Linked DNA regions of Homo sapiens. The protein of the gene in region 1 purifies or fractionates together with the protein of each later gene. This does not show direct contact. Each region holds a gene or a part of one and is shown on either strand. Other genes may lie near its edges.

Region 1 (16,129 bases):
AAGGACAGGTGTGGTTGGGCCCAGGGTCAAACCCCATGGAGGTCTCTGTCCCTTTCTAACTCTCGTCTGTGTTTGCCCCAGCTTTATACTCAGGTGGGTTTTTGCCACTTGCCAGCAACATGATCCTCAATAATTCTAGGCTTAAATAGTCGTTAAGATTTGTAATCCCAGAGAAAGAGCCTTCCTGTCCCATCACTCACATAGCAAATCTCTGGAGGTCTCTGATTGGGCCTGTTCAGGCCACATGGTCCACTCTTGGCTCAGTCACTGTAAACAATGGGATGGGAGATGGCGCCACAATTGACCAGGTAGGCCTCATTACACAGAACGCTGTCTTGGACTGAGCTTTTGCACCAGTGGCCTCCTTGGCTTGGAATGCTTTTCCCCTAAATCTATATGGCTGTCTCTCTTGTTAAGATCTCAGCTCAAAGCATCCCTTCCTCTGAGAAACCTGACCCAACACCCAATCTAAAGTCACTCTTGGAGCTGGGCGTGGTGGCTCACACCTGTAATCCCAGCACTTTGGGAGACCAAGGCAGGCGGATCACTTGAGGTCAGGAGTTCAAGACCAGCCTGGCCAACGTGGCAAAACCCCATCTAGACTAAAACTACAAAAAATTAGCCGGGCATGGTGGCAGGCGCCTGTAGTCCCACCTGCTTGGGAGGCTGAGGCAGAGGAATCACTAGAACACAGGACGCAGAGGTTGCAGTGAGCCGAGATCATGCCACTGCACCCCATCCTGGGCAACAGAGAGTCAGACTCTGTCTCAAAAAAAAAAAAAAAAAAAAGTCATTCTCCAGTCACTCTGTATTAATCAGGATTCAGGTTCAGTGGATATAACAAAAGCCAAAATAATGATAGCTTGAGATGAAAATTTACTTCTAAGCAATCCAGGGCTGATATGTCAGCAATATGTTGTGAGGGGTCTCAGCTCTTGCCTTGTTCTGTCATCATCAACACATCTTGGCCTCCATCTCATGAACAAAGATGGCTGGTGCTGGGCACAGTGGCTCACACCTGTAATCCCAACACTTTGGGAGGCTGAGATGGGTGGATCACTCAAGTCCAGGAGTTTGAGACTAGCTTAGGCAACATGAGGAAACCACGTCTGTACAAAAAATACAGAATTATCTGGGTGTGGTCGTGCATGCCTGTAGTCCCAGTTACTCAGGAGGCTGAGGCAGGAGCGAGCCCAGGAGGTCAAGGATGCAGTGAGTGGTGATTGCGCCCCTGCACTCTAGCATGGGAAACAGCGTGAGACCCTATCTCAAAACCAAAACAAAACAAAAAAATGGCTGGGCCAGTTCCCATCATCAGGTCCTCTTTCCAGCCAGCAGGAAGAGAAGAGCAAATGGAGGGCATGACCCTTCTTTATAAAGTCATGACCCAAAAGTTGCACACATCATTTCTGTCTACACACCCTTGTCTCAAATTAGTCACATGGTCATGCCCAGTTGTAAGGGAGGCTGGAAATAGTCTAGTGGGCCAGCCATATGCTCAACTAAAACTCGGGAGTTCAGTTACTAAGGAAGATGGAGAGAATGGATAGTAAGGCAAATGGCCATTTTTACCTAATGGAGGTTCTTGGGATCACAGAAACAGTGGTCAGAATATTAAAGAAAAAAGATCCTTAGAGACTATCTAGTTAAACACTCTGATTTTATAGATGGGGAGACAGACCCAGAGAGGTGACCTGTCCAAAATTAGACAGCAATCTAGTCAGTGGCAGACCAAGGCTGGAATTCAGGTCTCTTAACTCCAAGCCCAGTGCTCAAAACTCGGGAAGGGGCTGGGCATGGTGGCTCACACCTGTAATCCCAGCACTTTAGGAGGCCGAGGTGGCAGGATTGCTTGAAACCAGGAGTTCAAGACCAGCCTGGGCAACAAAGCACGACCCCATTGCTACAAAAAAAATGTTTTTCAATTAAAAATAAAACTAGTGAAGGGATTCGTTTTAGAGGGACTTTAGCTTTATATGTATTATTTCTATTCATGTATTATATGTAACAAGGATATATTCATGTGTGGCTATGTAAATAAAAAATGAAAACTTAACCAATACATATATGAAAAGGTGTTATCTTCATTAGTGGAGAAAATTCAAGTTAAAACCGCAATGAGATACCACAATACATCCACAAAAATGCCTAATACTGGCTGGGTGCGGTGGCTCATGCCTGTAATCCCAGCACGTTGGGAGGCCGAGGTGGGCGGATCACGAGGTCAGGAGTTTGAGACCAGCCTGGCCAACATGGTGAAACCCCGTCTCTACTAAAAACACACACACACAAAAATAGTCAGGTGTGGTGGTGTGCGCTTGTAATCCCAGCTACTCGGGAGGTTGAGGCAGGAGAATTGCTTGAACCCAGAAGGCGGAGGTTGTAGTTAGCTGAGATCGTGCCACTGCGTTCCAGCCTGGGCAACAGAGGGAGACTCGAAAAAGAAAATGCCTAATACTAAAAGGACAATGGGACAATGTCAAGTGTTGAGAATGCAGAACAACTGGAACTCTCAGATATGACTGGTACACCCTTTCAAAATGCCTGGCTCCACAAGAACAAAAAAAAAAGAAAGAAAGAAAGAAAGAAAGAAAACAAAATGTCTAGCTCCAGCCTGGGCAACATAGTGAGACCATGTCTATACTAAAAAATAAAAACAAAAATAAAATTAGCGGGGCGTGGTGACACATGTCTGTGGTTCCCGCTACTTGGGAGGCTGAGGCAGGAGGATTGCCTGAGTCCAGGAGGTGGATGCTGCAGTGAGCCATGTTTGGCCTGCACTCCGGCCTGGGCTACAGAGGGAGATCCTGTCTGCAAAAAAAAAAAAAAAAGAAAAAGAAATGTCTGGCCCTATTTACCAAAGCTGAACATATGCATACCTTATGACCCTGTGATTCCACACCTAGGTATTACCCAACAGTATTTACCCAACATTACCTATGTTCATAAGACACATGTTCAACAGCATTCATAGCAGCATTTTATAATATATGTAATAAGGCCGGGCATGGTGGCTCATGCCTGTAATCTCAGCACTTTGGGAGGCTGAGGTGGGTGGATCACCTGAGCTTAGGAGTTCAAGACCAGCCTGGCCAACATGATGAAATCCCATCTCTACTAAAATACACAAATTATCCGGGCGTGGTGGCAGGCACCTGTGATCCCAGCTACTTGAGAGGCTGAGGCAGGAGAATTGCTTGAACCTGGGAGGTGGGAGGTTGCAGTGAGCCAAGATGGCGCCACTGCACTCCAACCTAGGCAACAGAGCGAGACTCTGTCTCCAAAAAAAAGAAAAAAGAAGTGTAATAAACAAAATTGGAGATAACCCAAATGTTCATCAACAGTAAAATGTGGTCTATTTATATAATAGAATATTAAAGGTGTGAGAATGGATTAACTACAACTACACATAGCAACACAGATGTATCAAACACAATTTTGAGCAAAAGAAGCAAGGCATAAAAAATACATGCTATATTATTCTGTTTATATACAGTTCAAAAACAAATAAAGTTTAACTATGCAGTTTGAAGTCAAGATAGTTACCCTTTTGGGTAGTAAGTAACTGGAAGTGGACAGGCTGTGGAGGGTTCTGGAAATTGTTCTTTTTCTTGGTCTGGGTGCTGGTTGCATGGGTATGTTCACTTTGGGAAAATTCACATTTTGCATATTGGGATACTGAGGCTCAGAGAGAAAAACAATTGAATGGAGAGCTCACAGACAGACAGATGGCAGAGCTGGGATCAGAACCTAAGGGGTTAGGTTTTCGGTGACCCTGAAAAGTAGACAGTATCAGACATTCTTGGATTCTGTGAAATGCAGTTGAACCTCTGGTCTCCCAGTTGCCCTTCCCACCCCCACTTCTGCTTCATGCTTATAACACAAAACCAGTTTTGCAAGTGAGTCGGGCTCTCTCTTGCAGGTCCAAAGTCTGTGACTCTGCACTTTGTGTTTCTTCCCAGGCCTGAACCCAGTGAACAGACCAACTTGGAACATAGGAGAAAGTTTTGTTTTTTTGTTTTTAAGAGTTGAAAGGAAGAAAATTAGGCCAGGCACAGTGGCTCATGCCTATAATCCCGGCACTTTGGGAGGCCAAGGTGGGTGGATCAGTTGAGGTCAGGAGTTCTAGACCAGTCTGGCTACACGGCGAAACCTCGTCTCTACTAAAAATACAAAAAATTACCCGGGCACAGTGGCGCACACCTGTAATCCCAGCTACTCAGGAGGCTGAGGCAGGAGAATTGCTTGAACCTGGAAGGCAGAGGTTGCAGTGACCCCAGATCGCATCACTGCACTCCAGCCTGGGTGACAGAGTAAGACTCTGTCTCACAAAAAAAAAAAAAAAAAAAAAGGGCCAGGCTCGGTGGCTCATGCCTGTAATCCCAGCACTTCGGGAGGCTGAGGCAGGTGGATCACCTGAGGTCAGGAGTTCAAGACCAGCCTGGCCAACATGATGAAATCCTGTCTCTACTAAAATACACAAATTATCTGGGCGTGGTGGCAGGCACCTGTAATCCCAGCTACTCGGGAGGCTGAGGCAGAAGAATCGCTGGAACCCAGGAGGTGGAGGTTGCAGTGAGCTGAGATGGCACCATTGCACTCCAGCCTGGGCAACAAGAGTGAAACTCCGTCTCAAAAATGGAAGAAAGAGAGAAAGAGACAGAGAGAGAGGGAGGGAGAGAGAGAGGGAGGGAGGGAGGGAGGAAGGAAGGGAGGAAGGGAGGGAGGGAAGAAGAAAGGAAAGAAAGAAAGGGAAGGGAAGGGAGGAGGGAGGGAGAAAGGAAGGAAGGAGAGAGAGAGAGAAAGAGAGAGAGAGAAGAGGGAGGGAGGGAGAGAAAGAAAGGAGAGAGAGAAAAGAGGGAGGGAGACAGAGAGAAAGAATGAAAAAAAAAGAAAGAAAGGAGGGAAGGAGGAAGAGAAAGAAAGAAAGAGAGGAAAGAAAGAAAATTAGATACATGTTTGTGTGCTGCTAGAAAACTGTGTCATAGCATAACCAAAACTGTCACCTCAGCAATCCCTGGGGAGTGAGATGGGGTGGGGAAGCCCTTCTCTCCCTGCCCCAAGGCTACTGCCCTTGTTCAGTAAGCAGGCTGAGGCCCCACACCCTTCTTTCCGGTTCCTCACCTGGAGTACTTTCCTTGATCTTAACCTGACAACCTCCTTCTCACCATTCAGATCTTTGTTCCTTCCTTGACCACCTCATCCAAAGAGATACCCTGTCACTGTTCATAAAATGATTGTTTTTACCGCTTCCACTTCTCTCTCTGAAATCACTTTGTTTATTTATCTACTCAATGGTTGTCTGCCCCTCCCATGCCCCATGCAGGCAGGAACCACCTTGTTTCCCACTGAATCCTCAGAGAAGGACAGGGGACACAGAGCCCACAGATGTTAGGTGGTCAATGAATGAGGTTGGGTGTTGGTGGGGGGCTGGCTTTTTATTTTGTACACGTTTGTATTTTGCATTATTATTATTATTTTTTGAGACAGAGTCTTGCTCTGTCACCCAGGCTGGAGTGCAATGCTGTGATGTCAGCTCACTACAACCTCTGCCTCCCAGGTTCAAACAATTCTTGTGCCTCAGCCTCCCGAGTAGCTGGGATTACAGGCACCTGCCACCATGCCCCACTAATTTTTGTATTTTTAGTAGAGATGGGGTTTCACCATGTTGGTCAGGCTGGTCTCAAACTCCTGACCTCAAGTAATCCACTGGTCTCGGCCTCCTAAAGTGCTGCAATTACAGACGTGAGCCACCACACCCAGCCTGTTATTATTTTTTAACAAGATGGGGTCTCACTTTGTTTCCTAGGCTGGTCTCATACCCCTGAGCTCAAGGGATCCTTCCACCTTAGCCTTCCAAAGTGCTAGGATTTCAGGCATGAGCCACTATGCCTAACCCTGAATATGTCTGTATTTTTTTTAATAGGAGAAAAAGCATATACATTTATTTGATCATAGTTTTTTTGTGACATGGGAGCCTTCAGAATGAAGAGCCACAGATACAGAGGAAACTGTCCATTTTTATGCTTAGGTTCAACGAAGTGTACATGGCCGTGTATGTAGGGAAAAGAGAGATCAGACTGTTATTGTGTCCATGTAGAAAAGGGAGACATAAGAAACTCCATTTTGACCTGTACCCTGAACAATTGCTTTGCCCTGAGATGCTGTTAATCTGTAACTTTGCCCCAACCTTGAGCTCACAGAAACATGTGTTGTATGGAATCAAGGTTTAAGGGATCTAGGGCTGTGCAGGATGTGCCTTGTTAACAAAATGTTTACAGGCAGTATGCTTGGTAAAAGTCATCGCCATTCTCCATTCTCGATAAACCAGGGGCACAATACACTGCGGAAAGCCGCAGGGACCTCTGCCCTGGAAAGCCTGGTATTGTCCAAGGTTTCTCCCCATGTGACAGCCTGAGATATGGCCTCGTGGGATGGGAAAGACCTGACCGTCCCCCAGCCCGACACCCGCGAGGGGTCTGTGCTGAGGAGGATTAGTAAAAGAGGAAGGCCTCTTGAAGTTGAGATAAGAGGAAGGCCTCTGTCTCCTGCCTGCCCCTGAAACTGAACGTCTCGGTATAAAACCCGATTATACATTTGTTCAATTCTGAGACAGGAGAAAAACCGCGCCGTGGCGGGAGGCGAGACATGTTGGCAGCAATGCTGCTTTGTTATTCTTTTCTCCACTGAGATGTTTGGGTGGAGAGAAGCATAAATCTGGCCTGTGTGCACATCCAGGCATAGTACCTTCCCTTGAACTTATTTGTGACTCAGATTCCTTTGCTCACATGTTTTCTTGCTGACCTTCTCCTCACTATCAGCCCGCTCTCCTATCGCATTCTTCTTGCTGAGATAGTGAAAATAGTAATCAATAAATACTGAGGGAACTCAGAGACCAGTGCCAGAGCAGGTCCTCCGTATGCTGAGCGCCGGTCTCCTGGGCCCACTGTTCTTTCTCCATACTTTGTCTCGGTGTCTTATTTCTTTTCTCAGTCTCTCGTCCCACCTGATGAGAAATACCCACAGGTGTGGAGGGGCAGGCCACCCCTTCACATGTAGAAACAGGATTGCACAAAACGCTAATAGACTGAATAGAGAAACCCACCAAGACCCATCTGTGTAGATTCTTCTTGGCCTCTCTGTGCAGTGTTCCTTCCTCCAGGGTATGCGGCAAGACCCTCTCAAAGGGGCCTGGGTGGTGGGGGCTGTCTTATGACCTGTCTTGCCTAAGGTCATAGTGCAAGGTGATGAGACTAAAGAGGAACAGAGCACAGGCACAGAAGTATCTCAAAGCTTCCCCTCCGGTACCTCCCCAGCCTCTTTGGCCCAAACCCCCTGGCTAGCAACATTCCTATAGTTCCTCAGTGTCTCTTTGGTTCGGAAAAAAAACTTTCTTGCCTGGAGGCCTTTGCATCAGGGGGTCCCTTAACCATCACTCAGATCCTTCCCCTCTGCATGGCCAACTCTCATATGTTTGTATTTTTTAGTTTTTTGAGACTAACATGCATTACATGCATACCTTATTTATTTATTATTTTTTTATTTTTTTATTTTTTTGAGATGGAGTTTTGCTCTTGTTACCCAGGCTGGAATACAGTAGCCTGATCTTGGCTCACTGCAACCTCCACCTCCCCGGTTCAAGCGATTCTCCTTCCTCAGCCTCCCAAGTAGCTGGGAATACAGGCATGAACCACCTCGCCTAATTTTGTATTTTTAGTAGAGACGGGGTTTCACCGTGTTGGCCAGGCTAGTCTTGAACTCCTGACCTCAGGTGATCCACCCACCTCAGCCTCCCAAAGTGCTGGCATTACAGGCGTGAGCCACCGCGCCCAGCCAACATACATTACTTTTGCAAACAAAGATAAAACTCTTTTTTTATTCTTCAAAAGAATAAAAAAGCTCCCTGGTGGTCTAGTGGTTAGGATTCCAGGCTCTTACCACAGGGATCTTTTTTTTTTTTTTTTTTTTTGGGGACACAGTCTCGCTCTTTGCCCAGGCAAATATTGTGCAGTGGCAGAATCTTGGCTCACTGTAAGCTCCGCCTCCCGGGTTCATGCCATTCTCCTGCCTCAGCCTCCCGAGTAGCTGGGACTACAGGCACCTGCCACCATGCCCGGCTAATTTTTTGTATTTTTAGCAGAGACAGGGTTTCACCGTGTTAGCCAGGATGGTACCACAGGGTTCTTAAAAACAAAAAGAGGCCAGGTGCGGTGGCTCATGCCTGTAATCCCAGCACTTTGGGAGGCTGAGGTGGGCGGATCACCTGAGGTCAGGAGTTCAAGACTAGCCAGGCCAACACGGCGAAACCCTGTCTCTACTAAAAATACAAAAATTAGTTGGGTGTGGTGGCACACACCTGTAATCCCAGCTACTGGGGAGTCTGAGGCAGGAGAATCGCAAGAAACTGGGAGGCGGGGGTTGCAGTGGGCTATCGCGCCACTGCACTCCAGCCTGAGCGACAGAGGGAGACTCCGTCTCAAAAAAAAAAAAAGAGAAAGAATAAAAAAGCAGGTTACTGCAGCGGACTCTACCCTCACCAAGTTATCTTGGATTTAACAAGTTTCCAACTGAAAGCAATTCCCTCCAATACCAACTGGGGACCCTGAGACCAGAGAGGGGCTGGGCCTTGCCCAGGTTCACACAACACTAAGCAAGCCAGGCTGGGTCCCAACTCCCCTCCTCCCACTCAACCTGGGTACTTCTCGGGGGTTTCCCGATCCAAAGGAGGCCAGGAGCCGGGGTTGGGGATGGGGAGCGGAGACAGCGGTGAGGAGCGGCGGTGTGGCGGGCAGGGGGTGCGCAGACAGGGCGGAGAAGGTGCTGGTAACGGGGGCTGCGGAGCGGAAGGGTGCGGGCTGGGGAACCTCAGAGGGTGCGGGGAGGGAATAAGGGGCGTAGATGGTGCAGGGTAACGGAGGCGCGCAGTGAAGGCGGGTGACAGGGGCGCAGAGAGGTGCACAGTGAGACGAAGGAGGGAGAGGGGACGGCGAGGGCGACGGGAGATGGGGCGGGAGAGGGCGAAGGTGAGGGGGATAAGGGCGGGGACGGGGCGGGGACAGAGGCGGGTCGGGATGGTAGGGAGGGGCGGCCCGCGCGATCCCCGCCCCACCGCCCGGCGCTTGCGCACCTCCGCCCGAGCTCGCGGGCCTTGCGGCTGCGTTTTCAATCTGCTTCCTTGTGAGTCAGGTGGGTCCTGGGCCCAGGAACCGGCCCGGAGCCGTGGACGCCCTACAGCTGAGAAGGGGACCCAAGGGGTCGGCCGCGGCCAAGGCCCCTAGGACCGCCGCCCCAGCTCACGCTGCCGACGGCAGCTATAGACATTCTGCGTCAGGTCCGGGCTCCTGGACTTCGCCTTTCCCGAGCCCTGGAGGTGGGGAGAAAAGGTGAGCAGTTCGTGCCTGCAGCGCAGAGCCCCAAACCCGCGGTTTTAGAAATCGAAAAAGCCCTGCCGGGCGCGGTGGCTCACGCCTTTACCGTAATCCCAGCACTTTGGGAGGCCGGGGGGCGGGGTGGGGCGGGGGAGGATCACGAGTTCGGGAGTTCGAGACCAGCCTGGCTAACATAGTTGAAACCCCGTCTCCACTAAAAATACAAAAATTAGCCAGGTGTGGTGGCGCGCGCCTGTAGTCCCAGCTACTCTGGAGGCTAAGGAAGGAGAATCGCTTGAATCCGGGAGGCGGAAGTTGCAGTGAGCCGAGATCGCACCACTGTACACCTGGGTGACAGAGTGAGACTCTGTCTCAAAAAAAAAAAAAAAGAAAAAAAGCCGGCCGGGTATAGTGGCTCACGCCTGTAATCCTAACACTTTGGGAGGCTGAGGTCGGGAGTTCGAGACCAGCCTGGCCAACATGGAGAAACCCCGTCTCTACTAAAAATACAAAAAAAAAAGGAGCCGGGGATGGTGGCGCATGCCTGTAATCCCAGCTACTTGGGAGGCTGAGGCAGGAGAATCGCTTGAACCTGGGAGGCGGAGGTTGCAGTGAGCCGAGATCGCGCCATTGCACTTCAGCCTGGGCAACAAGAACGAAACTCCGCCTCAAAAAAAAAAAAAAAAAAAAAAAAAAGCCGTGGGTCAGGAGCCAGAGCCCTCTGCTCTAGTCTTAGCTGTGCCAATGTGACTCCCTGTGTGATTTGGGGGTAAATTACTGCCCCTCACTGGGTCTCTGTCTACCCACCTGCAAAATGAGAGGATCTTTGGATGAGTCTCCTTAATTCATTTCCTGGACAAACTTCCTCCAAGGCTCCCCCAGATTTACCAGTGACGCCCTTCCCTAAGTATCAACTTAGCCGTACTTTGAACTCTGGCCCCTCAGGTTTCAAGGGGACGGCCTTGTCTGGGATCAGCTCTGTCTGGGGAAAGAAGCTGCACCAGCCTCTGGATAGCAGGCTGAGTCACTTGTTTCTTGTGCCTTGAGTCAGTTCTCTCATCAGCTCTCCTCCTAGGCCAGTGTTATTACCTCCAGTAAAGATGGAAAAGTTGGGGTTCAGAGAGGGCTAGAGACAGACAGCCTGCTGTGTCCTGTCTTTTCTCCTGTGCTGTACAGGTTCACCAATTTTTAAAATCCAAATATATCTCATGGTACAGTGGAAGAACTGGCCAGAGAGTCTGGAAGTTTGGGTTCTGGTCCTGGCTGTGCCACTGACTCACTGTGACCTTGGGTAAGTACCTGCCCCTTTCTGGCTCAGTCTACTCTGCCCAGCAGCCAAGATATCGTTCATATGCTCTGCAAGGCCCCTTCTGTCTTTGACATCCCTAATAATGATAATAGCAATCATAATAATTGTGTCCTGTGTGCCAGACAGCTGGCCTCTGTCTACTTGCCCTGCCTCAGGGCCTTTGCACTTGCTATTTCCACTGACGGGAGCACTCACCTACCTCTGCTTCTTGCACATTCATTCTTCTGATCTCCATTGAAACTTGACTTGCAGGGCTGGGAGTGATGGCTCATGCCTGTAATCCCAGTACTTTGGGTGGCCAAGGCTGGGGGATCACTTGAGTCCAGGGGTTGGAGAGCAGCCTGGGCAACATAGTGAGACCCACCCCGCCCCACCACCCCACATCTCTACAAAAAGTTCAAAAATTAGCCGGGCATGGTGGCACGTGCCTGTAGCCCCAGCTACTAGGGAGGCTAAAGCAGGAGGATTGACTGAGCCTGGGAGATCGAGGCTGCAATGAGCCATGCACTCCAGCCTGGGAGACAGAGAGAGACCCTGTCTCACAAAAAAATTAAAAAAAATAAATAAAAAGAAACTTCACTTGCTTATGACATTCCCTAACTACACAGACTAGATGCGGTCCCTGGATTTAGATCCTTACGGTATCTATTGACTTCATTATATTTAAGTGTTTGTATAGTTCTTTGCCTAATATCCGTATCCCTGTTCTTCAGTGCCTGTAAATGCCCTAAGGGCTGGAAATCTATCCCATATGCTAGCAGCTAGCTCAAAAAGGTGCTCAGAAATTTGTTGTGGATTCAGAGTGACTTTCCTAGGGTCACACCATTGGCAGCACCAGAATTTGAACCCAGTCTGTCTGATGTCAGGGCCTGAGCTTCCACCTTACCTGCTATTTTTCATTCTAGGATCTTGTGCTGTGAAGACATTTCCCAAGTGCTTCATGTTAGCCAGCAAATCTGACCCACAAGGCCTGGAAAGAGGTGATTGTTAGGTTGCGCAGAGGTGGTCTTATCCAGCTCAGCTTCCCCTGGGACCCACCGTGGGACCTGAGGCAGAACTGGGGTGGACTTGGCCTCCTCCATGGCACACCGGCTGCAGATACGACTGCTGACGTGGGATGTGAAGGACACGCTGCTCAGGCTCCGCCACCCCTTAGGGGAGGCCTATGCCACCAAGGCCCGGGCCCATGGGCTGGAGGTGGAGCCCTCAGCCCTGGAACAAGGCTTCAGGCAGGCATACAGGGCTCAGAGCCACAGCTTCCCCAACTACGGCCTGAGCCACGGCCTAACCTCCCGCCAGTGGTGGCTGGATGTGGTCCTGCAGACCTTCCACCTGGCGGGTGTCCAGGATGCTCAGGCTGTAGCCCCCATCGCTGAACAGCTTTATAAAGACTTCAGCCACCCCTGCACCTGGCAGGTGTTGGATGGGGCTGAGGACACCCTGAGGGAGTGCCGCACACGGGGTCTGAGACTGGCAGTGATCTCCAACTTTGACCGACGGCTAGAGGGCATCCTGGGGGGCCTTGGCCTGCGTGAACACTTCGACTTTGTGCTGACCTCCGAGGCTGCTGGCTGGCCCAAGCCGGACCCCCGCATTTTCCAGGAGGCCTTGCGGCTTGCTCATATGGAACCAGTAGTGGCAGCCCATGTTGGGGATAATTACCTCTGCGATTACCAGGGGCCTCGGGCTGTGGGCATGCACAGCTTCCTGGTGGTTGGCCCACAGGCACTGGACCCCGTGGTCAGGGATTCTGTACCTAAAGAACACATCCTCCCCTCTCTGGCCCATCTCCTGCCTGCCCTTGACTGCCTAGAGGGCTCAACTCCAGGGCTTTGAGGCCAGTGAGGGAAGTGGCTGGGCCCTAGGCCATGGAGAAAACCTTAAACAAACCCTGGAGACAGGGAGCCCCTTCTTTCTCCACAGCTCTGGACCTTTCCCCCTCTCCCTGCGGCCTTTGTCACCTACTGTGATAATAAAGCAGTGAGTGCTGAGCTCTCACCCTTCCCCCACTAACCAGCTCCTAGCCTCTGCCCTCCCTCATTCTCATTCACACCTGTGTCCCTTTTCCACTAGGAGTCGACTTCACATCCAAAGGATTCACAGAGGGCCCCACTAGCTTCAAAACCAGGCACTTTCAAACTTGGTTTTAGCAGCAGAGTCCTTTAGTTATGGGCGATCTGAAACCCCATTATGCAAAACTAAAAACAGACCCTGAAAAACTGCTGGAGTTGAAGCAGAGGTGCTAAGGTCTCTCTTTCAGCTTCTGAAAATACCCTCTGGAAGCCTGGGGTCAGTGCTTAGTTTGAAAAGCAGGATGCTAAGCCATTCTGTAGGGACACTGTCCATTAGCACCACATAGTATGAAGGGGAGAATTTAAACAAGGAACCCCATGACAGTCATGAGAAGAAATCCTGTTGACATATGCCTGCCCCGTGTTAGGTAAGGTGCTGAGTTACCTCCATGCACATATAACCCTCAAAGCTACCTCGTTGGGCCTAGGTGGTTTGACCCCCTCCACAACTTTACAAATGAGGAAACTGAAATTCAGAGGTTAAGCAGCCTGCCCGAGGTCACAGCTAGCATGCAAAGACACCAGGATTCCATTTAGGCACATCTGAATCCAAAGCCCATTGGCTTGACCACTAGGTTGTAAGTAGATGAGGATGCTTGTCATGTGAAACGTGGTACAGTGGAGATTCTGGGAGAATAGGGGAGGTGTCCTAAAGAATATCAATCTCAAAGGGCACCCCAGTCGCAGAGACCAGTGTGGAGGTAGGAAAGTATGGGGAACAAGGACTGCAGTGTAGGGAATAGGTTTGGAGGGAGGGGGGAAGAACTGGAGGTTGAAGTAGGTTGGGTTTTTCAATTCCTTTTTTCACTTTAGGAGGCTGAGGCAGGAGGATCACTTGAGCCCAGAGTTCGAGACTAGCCTGGGCAACATGGTGAAACCCCATCTCTTCAAAAAATGTAAAAACTAGCCTGGTGTGCTGGCACACACATTTAATCCCAGCCACTCGGAAGACTGAGGCAGGAGGATCGCTTGAGCCCACAAGTTCTGTTACAGTAAGCTACGTGCCACTGCACTTCAGCCTGGGCAACAGAGTGAAACCCTGTCTCTAAAAACAAAACAACAAAAAGTTCTCCTGCCTCCCCACCTTCCCACACCGTTCTACTTGGTATTTGCTGGACATCTGTGTTCCTTGCCCAGTGCCAGAGGATACCACACATTAAAAACACAGGCTGGCAGTGTGTTCTGGTGCCAGCAGCTAGGGAGGGCTCTAGAATGGATGCTGAATTCAGTAGTGGCATTGGGGGTGGCTTTAGATGAGCAGGGGGATGAGGAGGACATTGCTGCAGCAGGCCGATGAACTGTGGAATGAAGGCTGCTGTGAGGAGCTGGGTTGGTGGATTGGGAGAAAATGGCATGGGGGCCTTCAGGTGCCAAGAAAAGCCTTGGCTTTGACCCAGATTTTTGAGCAGGGGCTGTGCCCAGGCAAAGGCAGGGAAGATCTCTTTGGGACTTGACCAAACCCCTTTTGGTCTGTTTTCCTTGGGACTGGCACCAAGGCCAGGCAACAGTAATTTCGTTGTTTTTTTTTTTTTTGAGATGGAGTCTCGCTCTGTTGCCCAGGCTAGAGTGCAGTGTTGCGATCTCGGCTCACTGCAACCTCCGCCTCCCAGGTTCAAGCAATTCTCCTGCCTCAGTATCCCGAGTGGCTGAGATCACAGGTGTGCACCATTATGCCCAGCTAATTTTTTGTATTTTTAGTAGAGATGGGGTTTCACCACATTGGCCAGGCTGGTCTCAAACTCCTGACCTCAGGTGATCCACCTGCCTCAGCATCCCTTTGAGACTCTGTCTCAAAAAAAAAATTAATAAACAGTGGTTTTCAAACTGCTCTGCAGCTCCCAAAGAAAGTGGGGAGGGCTCTGCCTTTCATCTTCTTTGGACGCAGGAGCCTAAAGTTGTAGGTAAGATTACTTTTGAAGAGAGTTCCTGGACAAAAGTTTGAAGACCACTGTTCTAGGGTGAACTCCTCATGGAGACAAACATAAAGGGACTTGCCTTGGGTCTTGGTAATGTCTCCAGGCTCTTTCCGCTACACTGAGCTGCGACCCACTTATTTCCGAGAATGCAATAAGGGTATGAAGACAGGCCAGCGTACAGTATACACCCAATTATCAACAAAGAACATGGAATAAATCTTCAATGCTTTTAAGACCTTTAATAATGCCCACGTGCCCTAAGGTTGGCCCTCTTAACTCCCTCAGCTCTTTCTGGCTTTAAGCCATCACCCCAGGTGTGCAGTTTATGTCAGAGGGGGCCATCAGGTAGGGAAACTTATCAGCTGCTCTAAGAGAAAAGGCCGTCCCTGCTATTATCAGTGGGCACAGGCTGGAGCTCAGCCAGCAGGGGCTACAGTCGGGTTACCTGGAGACATGATCCCCTGGTCCTCTGAGGGCCTAGGCAGGACATGGGGGAGGACACGGTCCCCCGGGACAGAGTCCTCTGGCCAGGAGCAGCCTTTCAGGTTGCTCTTGTGTGCTAGAAAAAAATATTTTCTCTATGTGCCATGTCATGAAAAAGACAAAAGCACTGAGTTAATGGGATGTGGAAACTTTAGCCACAGGCTTCTCTGCCTGTGAAGAGAGCATTTCTGCATGTGAACAGCTGGAGCAGGAGGCTGAATGGCAGTGCTTCTCCAGAGACCACAACATCCACCCAGTCACCTGTCCACCTACATTCACCTATCCATCTATCCATCCACTCACCTGCCAAATATTTATTGCATGCTCACTATGCACCAGGCACCATGCTAGATGCCAGAGACAAAGTGAAGACACCCTCAGAGGGGCAGATGCATGGTGGATTTGGGAGACTAAGGCCCAGGGAGTAGTAGGTTCCCCACAGGTACCCAGCACTCAAAGCAGCAATCTCCAACCCTTTGAATGCAAGGACTTTTTTGCTTATCTGTGGTGGCAGATATCACAAAAATTATACACAGACTTTTTTTTTTTTTTTAGCTCATCAGCTATCGTTAGTGTATTTTATGTGGCCCAAGAAAATTCTTCTTCAAATGTGGCCCAGGGAAGCCAAAAGTTTGGACACCTGTGATTTACAGGTTATGCCTAGATCTGAAACAGATCCCCATCCCTCCTAAAGCTGCCCACTGGTTATGGGCCCTGTTTCTCTTAGAAACACCACACACATCATTTGGGAAAAGCACACTGAGTAGAAACATGGCCTGAAAGGGTGGTGGGCGGTGGACCTGGCTTCCTGTGGCCAGAGGTCAGCGGACGATAGAAATGGTCTGATCGGCCACAGCAAAGACTGGGAAGAGGGGCCCCGGGAAGGACACATGATGGGCACAGAGCACTGTGCCGGAGGCTGGCTCATAGAAGAGCAGCTCCTGAACCTGCAAGTCCAGCACTACACCCAGCTGGGCTGGG
Region 2 (15,681 bases), on another chromosome or scaffold:
TCCCAAAGTGCTGGGATTACAGGCGTGAGCCACCATGCCTGGCCAGGTTTTTTCAACATTATAGAGATAAAATGGTTCATTGCAGCTCTAGTTGAAGTCGTGAATAAAGATGAGATTGAAACTAAGATATGGATTTGCCAAGTATACGAATTAAATAAACTCTTGATCTTGACTAGGTTTTATTTGTTGGTAAGCTACTTTTTTGTGGAAGAGTATTTTGATACATAGAAATAATCCTCCCCCTTTGTTATTTTGCTCTAGTTTATTAAATAAATCATTTGATTCTAATAAGCGTAGATAAGGTGGTTAGTTTATTTTCTGGAAGTACAAGTAAACAAGCCCATGGAAACAGCACTAAGTGCTGAAGACTTTCTGCTCTCATAATGTTTCTGGTTATCGAAATATGTCTCCATCTGTAATTTAGCAGAAACTAAGAGAAAGAGCCACTTTTGCAAACCAGCCCATGAACTTTTAGCCAAATCCTCTTATGTAATGTAAGGTCAACAAGAGAGTATTCCCATTATATAGATGAAGAAATTGCATGCCGTTGAGAGAAGCTAAGTGACTTGCCTAACTTTATTATTGCTACTAATGGTAACCCAGAGCTCTGATGCTCAGGACTTCTAATTTCAGGTGAGTAGTTTGTACTACATAGTGCTGCCCTGCTACTCACTAGCCACCACCTCCCTTCTTTAATTTTTGCCTCCTGATGAAGCCACATTTCGTGGCTAGCCCAGCAGTAGGCTGGGCTTTTGGAAGGGAGGGCACCTTTTCTTGCCTTTAGGGGAAGGTCATTTCTGCCTTTGTGGGAAACCACCTGAGCAAGTAATGACAGGGCACATCATGTAAACAATATCTAAGGGGTCAAATGGATTTTATTTTTGATATGCATTAATGGCAAGGTCACTATGTAATTTTTTTGGCCAAACTAGCACATTTTTTAGAGTAAAAAGGGGCACGAATGTAATGAAAATTATATATTTGGAATATCTATTGGCTTACAAATATATTAGTGAACTTATAGAATAGTTTCAGACCATTTTCAAAATTAACATTTTAAAAGATAATTTATATCCTTATGTGTTAAAATAAAAATTTATATTACATGAACATTCAGCATGAACAATTATTCCTGGTGCATATTCACATGCTTGAATCAGTTTCTTAGCTGTATCTTTTAACACCTTGATCCTGATAATTTTCTGAAAAAAGTTAATAAGATCTTATGCTTTGTTTATTTTTTTTGAGACAGAGTCTTTCTCTGTCACCCAGGCTGAGTGCAATGGTGTGATCTTGGCTCACTGCAACCTCCGCCTCCTGGGTTCAAGTGATTCTCCTGCCTCAACCTCCCGAGTAGCTGGGACTACAGGTGCATGCCACCACGCCCAGCTAATTTTTCTATTTTTAGTAGAGACGGGGTTTCACCATATTGGTCAGGCTGGTCTTGAACTCCTGACCTCGTGATCCACCCGCCTCGGCCCCTCAAAGTGCTGGAATTACAGGCGTGAGCCACTAGGCCCGGCCCTTGTGCTTAATTTTAAAATTAAATTTTCTGCAATTTTCTTAACAGTTGCAAATAGAATCTTTGCTTTAGACAATGGTTATTTTAGTTTTAAAGGTACTGTCTCTATAGATGCTGAAACACCACATAAACTGCTAAATGGAACAGTCTTAATTCTACATTTTGCACATTGAAATGGGAAGATATTTTAGCCTAAATATTTTCACAGGTGCTATGTTGGTGTATCTTTTCAAAGTACTTTTCTTTGACAAATATTTAGATAAAAGAAATAAGTTGTTTTTGTGTATGATTTTAAAAATAGTTTACCATATTTAGATAGGGGAAAATTAAAGTTTTTCTCAATTGTATTCCAATGTTTTACAAAATGGTAATTTATTCCAGGAAATTTTATTCAACAAAAAATATGAGTTCCATCAGAAGATTATTCTCAGACATTGAACTATTTAAAATTGCTATTATAGATGTATTTATTTACTAATTCTGCTGTATACAAAGTTCCACAAACTAGCTAGCTTGAAACAGCAGAAATCTGTTTTCACACTGGAAACAGTGGAAGGAGGCTGGAAGTCTGAAATCAAAGTATCTGTAGGCCCACACTCTGTCGACTAGCTTCTGGTTATTGCCAGCAGTCCTTGGTGTTCCTAAGGAGTTTGCAGCTGCATAACTCCAGTCTTTGCCTCTGTTGTTAAATGGTTGTCTTCCCTCTCTGTCTTCACTTCCCTTTTTATGTGTCTCTGTGTCTTCTCTTGTAAGGACAGAAATTAAAATTACTTGTGCATTGTTTGAGCTATGATTTTTTAAATTAGTTTACTTCTTCCCTTCCTTTTGAAGAGATAAGGTTTCTGTTTGTAAGCTTTGGTTTCACTGATTACAATTCACTAAAAACTTTAAATCTGAAGGTGTCCCTACTCCCATTTGGTCTGTTTGTTGAATATGTTGATTAATAATGACCAACAACTTTTGAAAAAAATGCAACAAGTGTTGCCCATCCCAGTGCCAGGCCAGCCCCCACAGACACAGCTTGTAGGCCAGTCCTTGCAGACCCAGGCTCTAGGCCTGCACTAATGCCAGGGCAGCATCCAAAGATTCCAGCTGAGCCTCTGCAGACTTAGGCATCAGGTAGAAACTCATGGACCCACACTGTAAGCCTGCCCCAGTACCAGGTCAGCTTCCATTAATTCAGGTCCAAGCCTATCCCCAGGGACCCAAACTCTGCACCCAACCCCATGGTTCTAGGTACCAGGTCTTCCCCTGCAGATCTAGGTACCAGGGCCATTCCAGAGGACCCTGGGCAAGCCTAGTCCCCACAGACTTGGGACCAGACCCATTCCAATGCCAGGCTGGTCCCCATGGACTCAGGCTCAAGACCTACCCCAGTGCCAGGATGGCCCCTATGAACCTAGGCTTCAGGTCTGTATTTGCAGACCAAGGCTCCAGGACTACTCCTATATACCCAGTTGACAGCCCACCCCAGTGGACCCATGCACCGGATTAGCCCCCTGTGAGTTGAAGCATTAGGCCCACCACCTGCTGACCTAGGCATCACCTGCCAACTAATCCAAGGGCTTTAGCAGCAAGCCCACCCATGGGCCATGCCGGATGGCCCATCAAGAATCTCTAGATCCACTGACTGGTGAAGGGCTTTCCCTGCTGAAGCCAGTTTAGAAAGACTGGAATAGGCGCCTACTTCTTCAAGCGATAGACAGCAATGAAAGGCCACAGGCTTGTGAACCATTAGGGAAACCTGGCACCACAAAAAGAACAAAATTAACAATAATTGACATAAAGAAATGGAGAGCTACAGGCTGCCTATCCAGAGAACACAGGTAGACAACTAGACAATATCAGTGATTTAAAATACTACAAAAGGGTAAAAACCAGGTACTGTGGGAGCTCACAGCAGATTCCCAGGGTACAGGGTTGGGAAAACATCACAAGAGTGTTTTATAAGCTGAGACTTGAGCAATGTGTGGGACAGACTTGGCAAAGTGGTTGGAGAGGTGAGAAAGGGAAGGAAGAGTGTTTCAGGCAGAGGGAATATTATATCTGAAGATCTGGAGAGAACATGGTGCAGTTCATGAATTAAAATATGACTGGTGTGTAGTGCGCGACTCACTAAGCACAGTGTTCTTTAACAGTGAGGCTAAAGTAGCTCATGCAGAAGTGTGTAACCCATAGGGGATTGGGATTTTAGTTAACTTTTTCCCCCAATTTCTCAGGTCAGAAATGTTAGAGTCATGTTTGCCTTCTGTTTTTCTTTTTTTCATATCCTACACCCAATCTCAGTAACTCCCAAGGGTTCCACTCTCAAAATAGATTCAGAATCAGACTACTTAGCACCTCCATGGCTACCCCTTTGCCTAACTCCCCATGATCCCTTGTTTGTTATACTACACTAGCTTCTTAGCTGGAGTCTCCACTTCTCCCCTTGATCTCATAGAGTCTATCCTTCATATTTTCACCAGTTATTTTAAAAGTGAAAGTCACGTCAAAATCTCTAAATGGCTTCGTGTCTCACAGTAAAAGCCAACATCCTTTCAAAGGCCTGCAGGGCCTTATATAATCTGATGTCCCATTCCTTCTCTGACTTCATGTCTTACCCTAGTTCACTTGTTCTTTCCACTGCAACCATTGGCCTCTTGCTATTCCTCAAAGATTTCAGGTATGCTCCTTGCTAAAGGCCTCCATACTTGTTCTTCCCTTCCCTTGGCCTAGAATGCTTTTCTTCCAGAAATCTACATGACTCATTTCATTCATTTCTGCCCACGTGTCACCTGATTTATCAGAGAAGTGATATCTTAACCCACCTATGTAAAATAACTCTGGCCCTCAGATAAGTCCTTTCTCTGCCTCATGTTACACATATTAAATACTTGTTGTTTTTCAATTTGCTTATATCTTCTTCAACTAGAATATAGTTTCCATAAAAGTAGGTAATTGTTTTGTGCCCTATTATTTATATTCCCAGTGCCCAAAATAGTTTTCAGCACATAGGAGACTTTCAATATATATTTGTTAAGTGAATAAACAATGAGCATGTGGTGGGGAGTTTTAACCAGGGAGGTGCTGTAATTAAATTAGAAAACAATCACTCTGGCTGCAGTATGGAAAATGGATTAGAGGAGATCAAGACAAGCCGGAGAGAAATTTTAGGAGATGTATTATTCAGGGGCTGAACATTTGAATTGTTGCTGATGTTTAACCTTTTTAGCTTTTCAAGAATTTTCATGTTGAAAAATCTAATTTGTTTATGCACTAAAGTAATGAGAATGTGTGAGTTGACTAGTTCTTCCAGCACATGGACCAATACAGGCACTCTCTCATTGGACCTGCATTAATTTGAGGTTGCTTCATTTTGCCTCTTACAGTGACTCCTACAGAGCTAGGCTTGCTGAGTCTCTACGGTGACTGATGGAGTCAGTTGGAGGGGCCAGTTGCTACTGAAAATGCTCAGAGACCTAACTCCTAATTTACCCATAAACACCAGCTAGCCAGGCTGTATCATGTCTGCTGTAATTAGTTAGCGAGCTGACTTAGCACCTCAGTGCTATAATTTAAAGTAAACCCTGAACAGTCTTAGACTTGAGTATGCACGGTACAGTTAAGTTTAATCTGTATACAGGTTGTCTCTTTGGAGTCTGGGAATCAGTTTATGCTATTGGTCTTCTCTGACAATCTCCAGGTCACGCAGATTTGTACTGTCTAGGACATAATTAGCCTAGATTATACTCAGTGATTGCCAGCTTCACAGTGGCCTGTGAACAAATTATTTTGTTTAATGTGAGTGAATCAATAATGTGTCAGCAGTAGCATCACTACTCACATGCTATAAAATGCAAGACAGAGTTCAGATGTTTTTATATTTTAAAATAGAATGTATATTCCTTACTGTGTTAGGTGATTACTAGTTTTTTTAACAGATGAATCTGCTTCTATAATAGTGTTCTACCCCAAGAAAATATTGCTGACACAAATTGATTTATGGAAAGTTTTATTTGCTACTACCTATAAATGAGTTGTGCTGGAATTTGTTGCTGTATCTGCAGTTCTTAGTATTTGCTAATATAAAAGATCCTTGTTATCTTAGTGCCAAAAGGCTACTTAAATGAATTCATAAAATATCCTTACCAGAAATTCATAGGAAACAGTGAAAAAAGTTTGTTACTTTACTTTGAAAAATAAAAACCTCAAAAGTTTTATTTTATTTTAACTTGATTTGCTTATAATTACATACAAAGTATTGGAAGGTACAAAGCACAAGCTACAAAAATCACTCAAGAAATATTAGATAACCTGAATTGCCCTCTATATTAAGGAATTTAAGTTTGTAGGTTTAAACCTTCCCAGAAAGAAAACCCCAGAATCAGATAGCTTCATGGGTGAATCCTACCAAACATTTAAGCGAGAAAAAAATGCCAATTCTTTACACACTCTTCCGGAAATTTGAAGAGGATAGAATTCTTCCTAACTCATTCTATGAAGCTAGCATCATCCTGGTATCAAAGCTACATGATAACATTATAAGAAAAGAAAACTACAAACACCTCTTATGCATGTAGATGCAACAATTTTAACAAAATTTCAGATGAAATCCATGATAGTCTGGAAAGGATAGATACATAATAACCAACTGGGATGTATCCCAGGAATGCAAGTTTGATTTAACATTTGAAAATTGATCAGTTACCATATTAACAGACTAACACTCGAGAAAAACATATGATCATCTCAATAGACATAAAAAACACTTGGCAGTAGCCTCATACAAATTCTCACCAAACTAAAAATAGACATAAATCATAAACTGAATGTATAACTTAGGCCCATAAAACATCTAGAAGAAAACGCTGGAGAAAACCTTTGTGACCTTGAATTAGGCAAAGATTTCTTTTATACAACACTAAAAGCATGGTCCATAAAAGGAAAAAATAATAAATTGGAGTACATTAAAATTAAGAACTGTTCTAAAAACATGAGAATAAAAAGGCAAAGCACAGACTGGGAGACAATATTTCAAACCCCATATCTGATAAAGGACATGAATCTAGGATACACAAAGAACTTTAAAAAAACCCAAATGTCCAACAACGAAAGACTGGATTAAGAAAATGTAGCACATATACACCATGGGCTACTATGCAGCCATAAAAAATGATGAGTTCATGTCCTTTGTAGGGACATGGATGAAACTGGAAACCATCATTCTCAGCAAACTATCGCAAGGACAAAAAACCAAACACTGCATGTTCTCACTCATAGGTGGGAATTGAACAATAAGAACACATGCACACAGGAAGGGGAACATCACACTTCGGGGACTGTTGTGGGGTGGGGGGAGGGGGGAGGGATAGCATTAGGAGATATACCTAATGCTAAATGACAAGTTAATGGGTGGAGCACACCAACATGGCACATGTATACATATGTAATAAACCTGCACATTGTGCACATGTACCCTAAAACTTAAAGTATAATAATAATAAAATTAAAAAAATTCAAAATAGGAAACAACCTACTAAACAATGGGCAAAAGACTTAATTATTTAATTCACTAAAGAAGATCACAGATGGCAAATAAGCATATGAAAAGATGTTCAACATCAGTATTCGTTAAGGGAATGCAAATTTAAAGCACAGTGACATACCACCATATGTCCACTAAAATGTCAACAGTTTTAAAACCTGACCATCTGAAGTGATGACAAGTATATGGAGCAACCAGAACTCATATAGTGTTTGAAGGAATGCAAAGTTGCAAAGTGGTACAGTGTTTTTGTAACGTAACAGTTTTTAACGTATTTAAACATACACTTACGATGTGACCTAGCCATTCCCCTTTGAGATATTTGCTCAAAAGAAATTAAAGCGGCCAGGAGTGGTGGCTCACACCTGTAGTCCCAGCATTTTGGGAGGCCAAGAGGGGCAGATCACTTGCAGCCAGGAGTTCGAGACCAGCCTGGCCAACATAGCGAAACCCCGTCTCTACTAAATATACAAAAATTAGTCAGGCATGGTGGCATATGTCTGTAATTCCAGCTACTCTGGAGGCTGAGGCATCAGAATCATTTGAACCCAGGAGGCGGAGGTTGTAGTGAGCCGAGATCTTGCCACTGAACTGCAGCCTGGGTGATGGAGACCCTGTCCCCCACAAAAAAAATATTTTAAAGCATATGTGTACAAAATATATTAAAGCATATGTGTTATAAAATGTTTGTAACAGCTGTATTTGTCATGATCAAAAACTGGAAAGAACCCGAATATCCATTAATTACAATCGAATGGATAAACAAATATTGGTATATCCATACAATGTAATACTACTCAGCAATAAAAAAGAAATGAACCATTCAAACATGCAACTATGTGAATCAATTAAAAAATAATTATGCTGAGTGGAAATAGCTGGCCAAAAAAGAGTATGTAGTATTTGATTCAATTTTTATAAAATTATTCATAATACAAACCAATATATACTGAACAAAAGAGGTCAATGGTTGCCTGGAATGGTGAATTGAGGAGTGGAATCTGGCAGAGACAGGTGGAATGGCAAAATTTTAAAGGTGCACCTGGAAAGTTTTGGGAATGATAGACATGTTCATTTTCTTGACTATAGTGATGGTTTCTCAGGTATATACATATATTAAAACTTAAACTTGTACATGTTAAATATGTCCAGTTTATTATATGACAATTATACTGAATAAATCTTTTACAGAAATAAGACAGCAGAACAAGATTATTATATTGAATTCATCATGACATTTCATGTCTTGAAAGCTATTAAAATTTTAATGAAGAGTAGACAAAATTAGAATCAAAAGTAGAGTTTACTTAGAATGTCTAGTTGTGATTGTATTGTCTAACCAATTTGCTCAGTTATTTACTCATAAATTATGATTGTTATTAAAATACACTTTTATGGTAAACTAAAGTGGTTTTCAAACATGGTCATACACAAGAATCACATGTAGGAAATTATTAGACATGCAGATTTCCAGGTTTTTCCCCTGCCCCCAGGAATTCTGAATTGTAGATGTGGATTGTGGGGTCTGGGAATCTGCAATTTCAGGCAGTTTTTGATGTGTGTATCCATAGACCACGCTTGGAATTGCTTCTTAGCAGAACATTGTTTACATCAAAATTGCATGAACTGAGATGAATGCAGTGGAAGACTGGTGCCATGCTATAATGGTGTATTTTCGATCAAGTTCTACCTATACGTCCACAAACCTGCTAGAGAGAGCAGTTGACTTATTTGGAAGGAGCACAAAGTTTGCATTTTGTGTGTTGTCGGATATTTATAGCACCCGCCCTCATTAGAAAATTAAAAGTGTACAGATACCACAAAGAATTAAGGTTTATAAGGGCTTCCTTTCCTCCTCCTCTTTCTCTTCTGCTTCTTACTCTTTCCCTTTTCCTCCTTTTCATAATATTTATTTACCTACATTTGATGTTTTTTGTAGTAATCATGTTTTTACCGGGCCATTCAATAATGAAAGGACAGGGGCAGAAGGAAGAAGGGACCACCTTCTACTTTATCAGATACCTTTAAAAAAATAAACACACAGTAAGAGCAATGTAATTCACCACTTTCAAGTTTGAGGTCATGGAGAGCAGAAAAGCCTTTCTAGAAAGTATTTCTTTGTGCCTTTCCAGAGATAGTTTATATCATCTATCAAATTATGGCACTTCTTACCTTCTGAAATACTTATAAACTGCCAGGAAGTAATCTTCTGTGGAAACTTACTCCATTAGAAATGATGCCATTGCATTGGGAAGGAACTAAACTATCGGTTTACTGACCTGATCCCCACCATAATCAGTGACAAGCATGGCAAGACTCACAGCTGTTGTCCGGGGCCATGCCTGGGGCCATGGAATAACATTTTTCTTTGAGTAAGTTAAAAGAGTTGTGTAGTATGAAGCTCATGACTTCAGAGTCTTGTGCTGGATATGCTAACCAAAAACGAACTGATTTCGCCTTAGGGTCACAAGATTGTGGGGCTACGTGTATACATAGTGGAGTCCAGTCTTCAAGATGGTTGCCAGTTTTAACTAGGCTGTGCTGATTGATCTGCCTCTTTAGAAAAAATAGCAGAACTTTAAATTTAGGCAATATTATAGTCCAGATCTTGAGTATGTGGTTTGATAATTTATATGAATACATAAATGTGTGTATATGTATATACATATGTATGCATATGTGTATATAATATATATGTTTTATATATGTATGTGAAAGTTGTGAAGAAATGTACACTGTCGTTAGCATCTTAGTCTATTTGAGCTGCTATAACAGAATACTGTACACTGGTTGGCTTATACAAAAACAAATGAATTTCTTATAGTTTTGTAGACTGGGAAGTCCAAGGTCAGTACACCAGAAGGTTCAGTGTCTGGTGTGGGCCTGCTTTTTGGTTAATAGATAGCTGTCTTCGTGCTATGTCCTCACATGGCAGAAGGCACAAGGGAGATCTCTGGAATTTCTTAAAAGGACACTAATACCACTTATGAGGGCTCTATCCTCATGGTGTAATCACCACCCAAAGGACCTACCTCCTAATACCATAACATTTGGGGTTAGGATTTCAACATAGGAATTTTGAAGAGACATACACATTCATTTTATAGCAGATAGATTATACTGTAGAACTAAATAACAGAGTTGGAATCCTTCACAAAATTATAAAATATTTATGAACCTGAAGAGTAGGTGTCACTATAATTGAAAAAAAAATCAAATTTTGGGTGCTTGGAGAATCATGGTGGTTTTATTGAGTTTTGTACCTTAAATTTGTGCAGTTGAGTGTTTCTTATTTTCTTTTTAGTATTTATTGTTTTGCTTTCCACAGACATGAAGCCATTATTATATCAGGAACCGAAATGGCCAAGCATATCCAGAAAGAAATACAGCGAGGTGTGGAATCATGGGTTTCCCTTGGAAACAGAAGACCTCACCTCAGTATAATTTTAGTGGGAGATAACCCAGCAAGCCATACATATGTCAGGAATAAGATAAGAGCTGCCTCTGCTGTAGGTGGGTGTGTGTTTTAGTTGTAATTACTACTAAATATGTTTTCTGTTTTTACTTCAAATTGTGATAATTATGAATGATAATTATCAAATAAGTGCCATTTGAATTGCATGTATTATTATTAAAGATTATTCAGTTACCAAAGCTTATGTTAATTTCATATGATTTTTCTTCAAATTTCTTATAGGGTTAATTCAGTGTGTTTTATATTCTATGGCAAGATATGCAAAGGATAGTTTGCATCTAAAAGGCCTGCTTTCATTATATTTGCTTTAATCAAATAATAAACCTGGCTTGTTCACTCTGTTAAACTTGGCCTAATAGTTGCATGGTAGTGATATTTTTATTCTCTTCAAATCTACTAACAGTAGCTTATCTCAAACAAGTACAAATTGTCACCTGGCATTCCAGGCCAAAGAATACATGTGGATCAAGAGGAAACACCTGTACTATTGGAGAAATCCTTCCTGATGATGCATGGAACATCAGAACCTTTCACGGCAGTAGGAACAGTCCCACACTGTGTCAGACACTATTGATGAAAAACCATATTCAGTTAGTCAAGTGACCTTCTCTACCTGTTTTTCTTCTAGGTATTTGTAGTGAGCTCATTCTAAAACCTAAGGATGTTTCTCAGGAAGAACTTTTGGACGTAACTGATCAATTGAATATGGACCCAAGAGTCAGCGGTATATTAGTTCAGTTACCACTACCAGGTACATAATGCTCCTCTTATTTATCTGATTTTGTTAAAAGTGAAACAAAGGGCATCTTTCAACATCATATTATGATACTGCAAGTAATTTATAAAATACATTCAGAAGGAGACTAGCTATTTTACTAGTAATAGGTGTAATAGTGATTTCTGAATGATTTGTGCTTACATGGACAAAATCCTTGAAAGTGAAATATAAGCATTGGCAATACATACACTCCTTGCTTTGCACAGTAGTATGGGTCTCTAAAAATGACGATGTAAGATGAAACCAGGTAATGTGATCTTAATAATCAAAGGTAAAAATAACAATTTTTCTGTGGCCTTTAAAACTTCTTATCCAAGCATTGAAAACTCTCCTACTGTGGTTCATAAATGTATAGGGAAATGAATAATTAGTAAAACTAAGCTAATGTTTTTTAGTACACTCTAATTTAAAACATTAGAAACATTGAGAAAGTGTATGATATCTTTGCAAAAGCTCGTCAAAAGTAGTTGGAGCAGTGTTTGTCTTCTGTCTAATTCTATAACTTATCATATGGAATGGGCATCTTTTCTATGTCTTGGTGAATTGAACTGTTATATTCCTTTCAAAGTTTAGATTAGCTCCCAGTATTTTGTCTATTCTACTTTCAATGTTGTGAAATTTCTCTGAGAGTTCCTTAACATTTAAAGGAATTTCAGTATGAAGTTTCACATTGGCGTCACTTCATCTGAGATGTTGTTGTCTTTTTTATTACGATCACTTTCCTCGTTTGTGTGATGGATTCACCCTCATTAAGTTCCTCTGGCTGCGTAACTACGTCTCTCCAAAGGATTCAGTGTCAGCATTCTATGGTCAGCTATTTCTCCTACAACTCCATTTACATTAAATTAGATTCCTATTGAAATGACTTTGTTTTTTATGTTTATCAGGCTTTTTCAACATAAGACTTACCTTCGCTTCATGCGGGCCTAGGTTTCTCTTGTCTTTGTTTGCTGTTGTTCAGATCTTCTACTTACATCCAGTTTCCATCCCAGCATTATCACATTTTGTTTCTTTGCTATACTTTCACTTTTATAGGCTAATCCCCTCTGTCTGTTATCCACTTTTGTAAAATATCATGTGGGTTTATCTCTGGGAAACATGGAGAAAACAACACTTTGCCATCGATGTTTGATGATTGTAAATGTGCAGTGACCAATCATTTGAAAGAAGTGCTATGACTGGTCACTGATCATCATCTCATCTGTTATTTCTGTAGTGATCTGTGGACTAAAGAGCTAGCAGCTCTTGTATAATTACTATGAAATTTGAAATGTGTTATTGGAGGACTAGTATTATTTAACTGAATTGTTGTTCTGAAATTTGTGCATATTTAAACTGCGCAAAATGAGGACTGCAGGTATAGTATAGGTTACAGTAGCTTTGTAGTTTTGAGTTCTGTAAGCTTTGATTAACAATCGTGATGTGCAAAAAGTAAAGCTATATAATGCTATTATATGGGATCTTTATGTGGTATTAATATTTTTCTTTATCCAGCAATATAATGTAATATCTTACTTAGCATATGTTATAGCTTTTGTGCTGTTTACATTATATCAAAAATTCATACTTCTAATTCTTTTCCTCCAATATAGCTGCACTGACAAAAATCATCAAGTTAATAAGAATCTCAGAAGCTATCAGTTTTCCCCCTGAGAAAAATGCTCTGGCAGATAATGCTTACATTAATGATGTTAAAGTTAGTATAGTGATAGTATCACTTACCTTTAAAACTAGAAAAAAAATTCAACACGTGCAGCACTCTTATATCATAGGAAAATGAGATCTAGAGAAGATCAGGAGTTTATTAACATCACAAATCTGTCCAAAAAATTTTAACAGTGTTTCTCAATTGTTTGACTCACTCACAATGAATCTCCTGTTGGTACTGTATTTATCAAGCAATCTTCTTATAGTTTGCAGTTTTTGAAATTTTCTCTACTTGGCATTTCTACGACATTTCAATAACTGTATAAACATGTCACAACATTAATTCTTAAAATGTCCATTCTACACAAAATGACCTGAAAAGACATTTCTTAAGAGAAGACATACAAATGGCCAACAGGTATATGAAAATGATAAACTTCACTAATTATCAGGGAAAGGCAAATTAAAACCACAATGAGATATCACCTCACACCTGTTAGGATGGCTGTTATCAAGAAAATGAGGTAAGTGTCAAGGATGTAGAGAAAAGGAACCCTTGCTCACTGCTGTTTAGAATGTAAATTGGTACAGTCATTTTAGAAAACAGCATGACAGTTCCTCAAAAAATTAAAAATAGAATACCGTATGATCAAAAAATTCCATTTCTGTATATATATCCAAATGTCATGATATCAGTATGTCAAAGAGATATCTGCACTCCTAAAGTAATGCTGCACATTGCAGCATTACTTTAAGATACATAATCAACTTTAGTGTCTATCAGTGGCTGAATGGATAAAGTAAATGTTGTTGTATATATACACTATGAAATAAGAATCAACTTTTTAAAAGAATGAAATCCTGTCATTTGCTATAACATGGAACCTGAAGTGTATTATACTAAGTAGAATGAGCTAGGCACAAAAAGAAAAACCTGCATGATCTTACCTGTAGAATTTTTAAAAGTAAACTCATGGAAACATAGAGTTAATGGTGGTTACCAGGGACTGAGGACTGGAGAGGGGATTGTGGAGATGTTGGTTAAAGGATACAAAATTTTAGTTAGACAGGAATAAGTTGTGGAGGTCTATTGTACAACATGGTGACTTAGCTAATAACAACATACTATATACTTGCAAATTGCTGAGAAAGTAGATTTTAAATGTTCTCACCACAAAAATACATATCTTGACTTAGCTGTTTCATAATGTATACATATGTCAAAACATTGTACACCACACATATCTACAAATTTTTCTTTGTTAATTTAAAAGTATTAAAATAGTCATAGTTTTCAAAGTACATTACATTTAGTTTGTCACAGATTTCTAACTACGTTGGATTTTATATCTGTAGAAATTTTACCCCTTTTGAGCAACATTCCTTATTTGGTGAATTTATTAGCAGCTCGCTGCTAGATGGCACTGGTGATTTGTCTGTATTAAATACTAAATTGCCTGAGTCCTGTGCTAGAGACTAAATTGTTTGAGTGTCTCAAACAGAGAGTGTGAGAAGCATAGAGCTAAAGTGACCACAGTGATTAAAAAAAAAAATCTGGATGTTCTGAGAAAGGGCAGTTTTCTATGTAGCCAAAAAGCCAATAATGCCAAAATTGTGGCTAACATTTATTACATTATGACACTTTTGTATGCCATTTATATTACAAATGGCACTTTGTATTTATTAACCCATTGGATCCTCACAATAATCCTGTGAAGCTGGAGCTATTATATATTTTTTACTGATGAGAAATTTGAGGCGTGAAGAGGGTAAGTAACTTCTTCCAAGTTCATAGAGTTGCTAAGTAACTGAGTTGGGATTTGAATCCGGGCAGACTGGCCCCCATGCCAAGAATACTCTTACCGATTATGTTAGCACCCTCACTGGCACATCAGTGTTATCTAGTGAGTCATGTGTGCTTACTATGTGGCAGGCACTCCCTTACCTGGATTATTTTATTGAATCCTACAAACACCCTTATATGATAAGAATTAACTTCTTCATTTTATAGTTAAAGAGACTGAGACACAGGGAGGTTAAGTGAATTGACCAGTATTACCTGTTAGTAAATGGTAGAGCCAAGACCCAAACCCAGATCAACTGATTTCAGAGCCTGCCTTTTAAACTTCTTGTTACGTTTTACTGTCTCTCAGAACATAGTAAGGCATAACGTAAGCACATATATTTCAAACATTCACATACAAGTTCCTAGCACATGTAACCACCAAGTTGCTGATCGTTTGGTTTCCCTGTTTCCATACTTATAACCTATATTTTTTACGATTTTTACCTTGCTCAATAATGGTATTCCTATTTTTATTCATAATTTCTTTTTGGTAAGGTTTAAAAATGATAGCAATGGGATTAAAGACATATTAAATATACTATTCCTTTCAAAGTAGCCTCCATTTTAGTAATTGCACTTTGGTACATTTTTGCTAGCAGAAGATATTATTCAAATATGGGTATATACAGTCTGAATTTATAATGTGGCTTTGTGATTTACTGACCGTTACTTAACTTTGATGAGTCTTACTTTCCTCATAAAAAGAGAATTGAAAATCGATCTTTTATACTACATATTGGGAACATATAGTTTGTTAGTTAATAGAAAAAGTTGGTTAAAGTAGAAAATTGTAAAACAATGCATATGTACCTTAAACATTGTGTTATGTAATAAATAATTTAAATATTCATTCATCAATCTTTAACATAGATTAAAAGCTTTCTGGAGC

Evidence for each region.
Region 2: the proteins of HDHD3 (region 1) and MTHFD2L purify together in Homo sapiens (affinity purification with mass spectrometry; 2 studies listed by BioGRID and IntAct, with this or other methods). This does not show direct contact.

What each region holds. Positions count from the first base shown.
Region 1 is NC_000009.12:113,369,983-113,386,111, reverse strand, and holds HDHD3 (haloacid dehalogenase-like hydrolase domain-containing protein 3), read left to right. Parts: upstream 1-9,125; 5' UTR 9,126-9,383; intron 9,384-9,511; exon of another isoform or gene 9,512-10,544; 5' UTR 10,545-10,659; intron 10,660-11,582; 5' UTR 11,583-11,757; coding exon 11,758-12,513; 3' UTR 12,514-12,690; downstream 12,691-16,129. Other genes in the region: BSPRY (B box and SPRY domain-containing protein), read right to left, coding at 15,970-16,129.
Region 2 is NC_000004.12:74,164,132-74,179,812, forward strand, and holds part of MTHFD2L (bifunctional methylenetetrahydrofolate dehydrogenase/cyclohydrolase 2, mitochondrial), read left to right. Parts: intron 1-7,646; exon of another isoform or gene 7,647-9,353; coding exon of another isoform or gene 9,354-9,418; intron 9,419-10,374; coding exon 10,375-10,559; intron 10,560-11,149; coding exon 11,150-11,272; intron 11,273-15,681. UniProt on the Homo sapiens protein: Bifunctional mitochondrial folate-interconverting enzyme that has both NAD/NADP-dependent methylenetetrahydrofolate dehydrogenase and methenyltetrahydrofolate cyclohydrolase activities.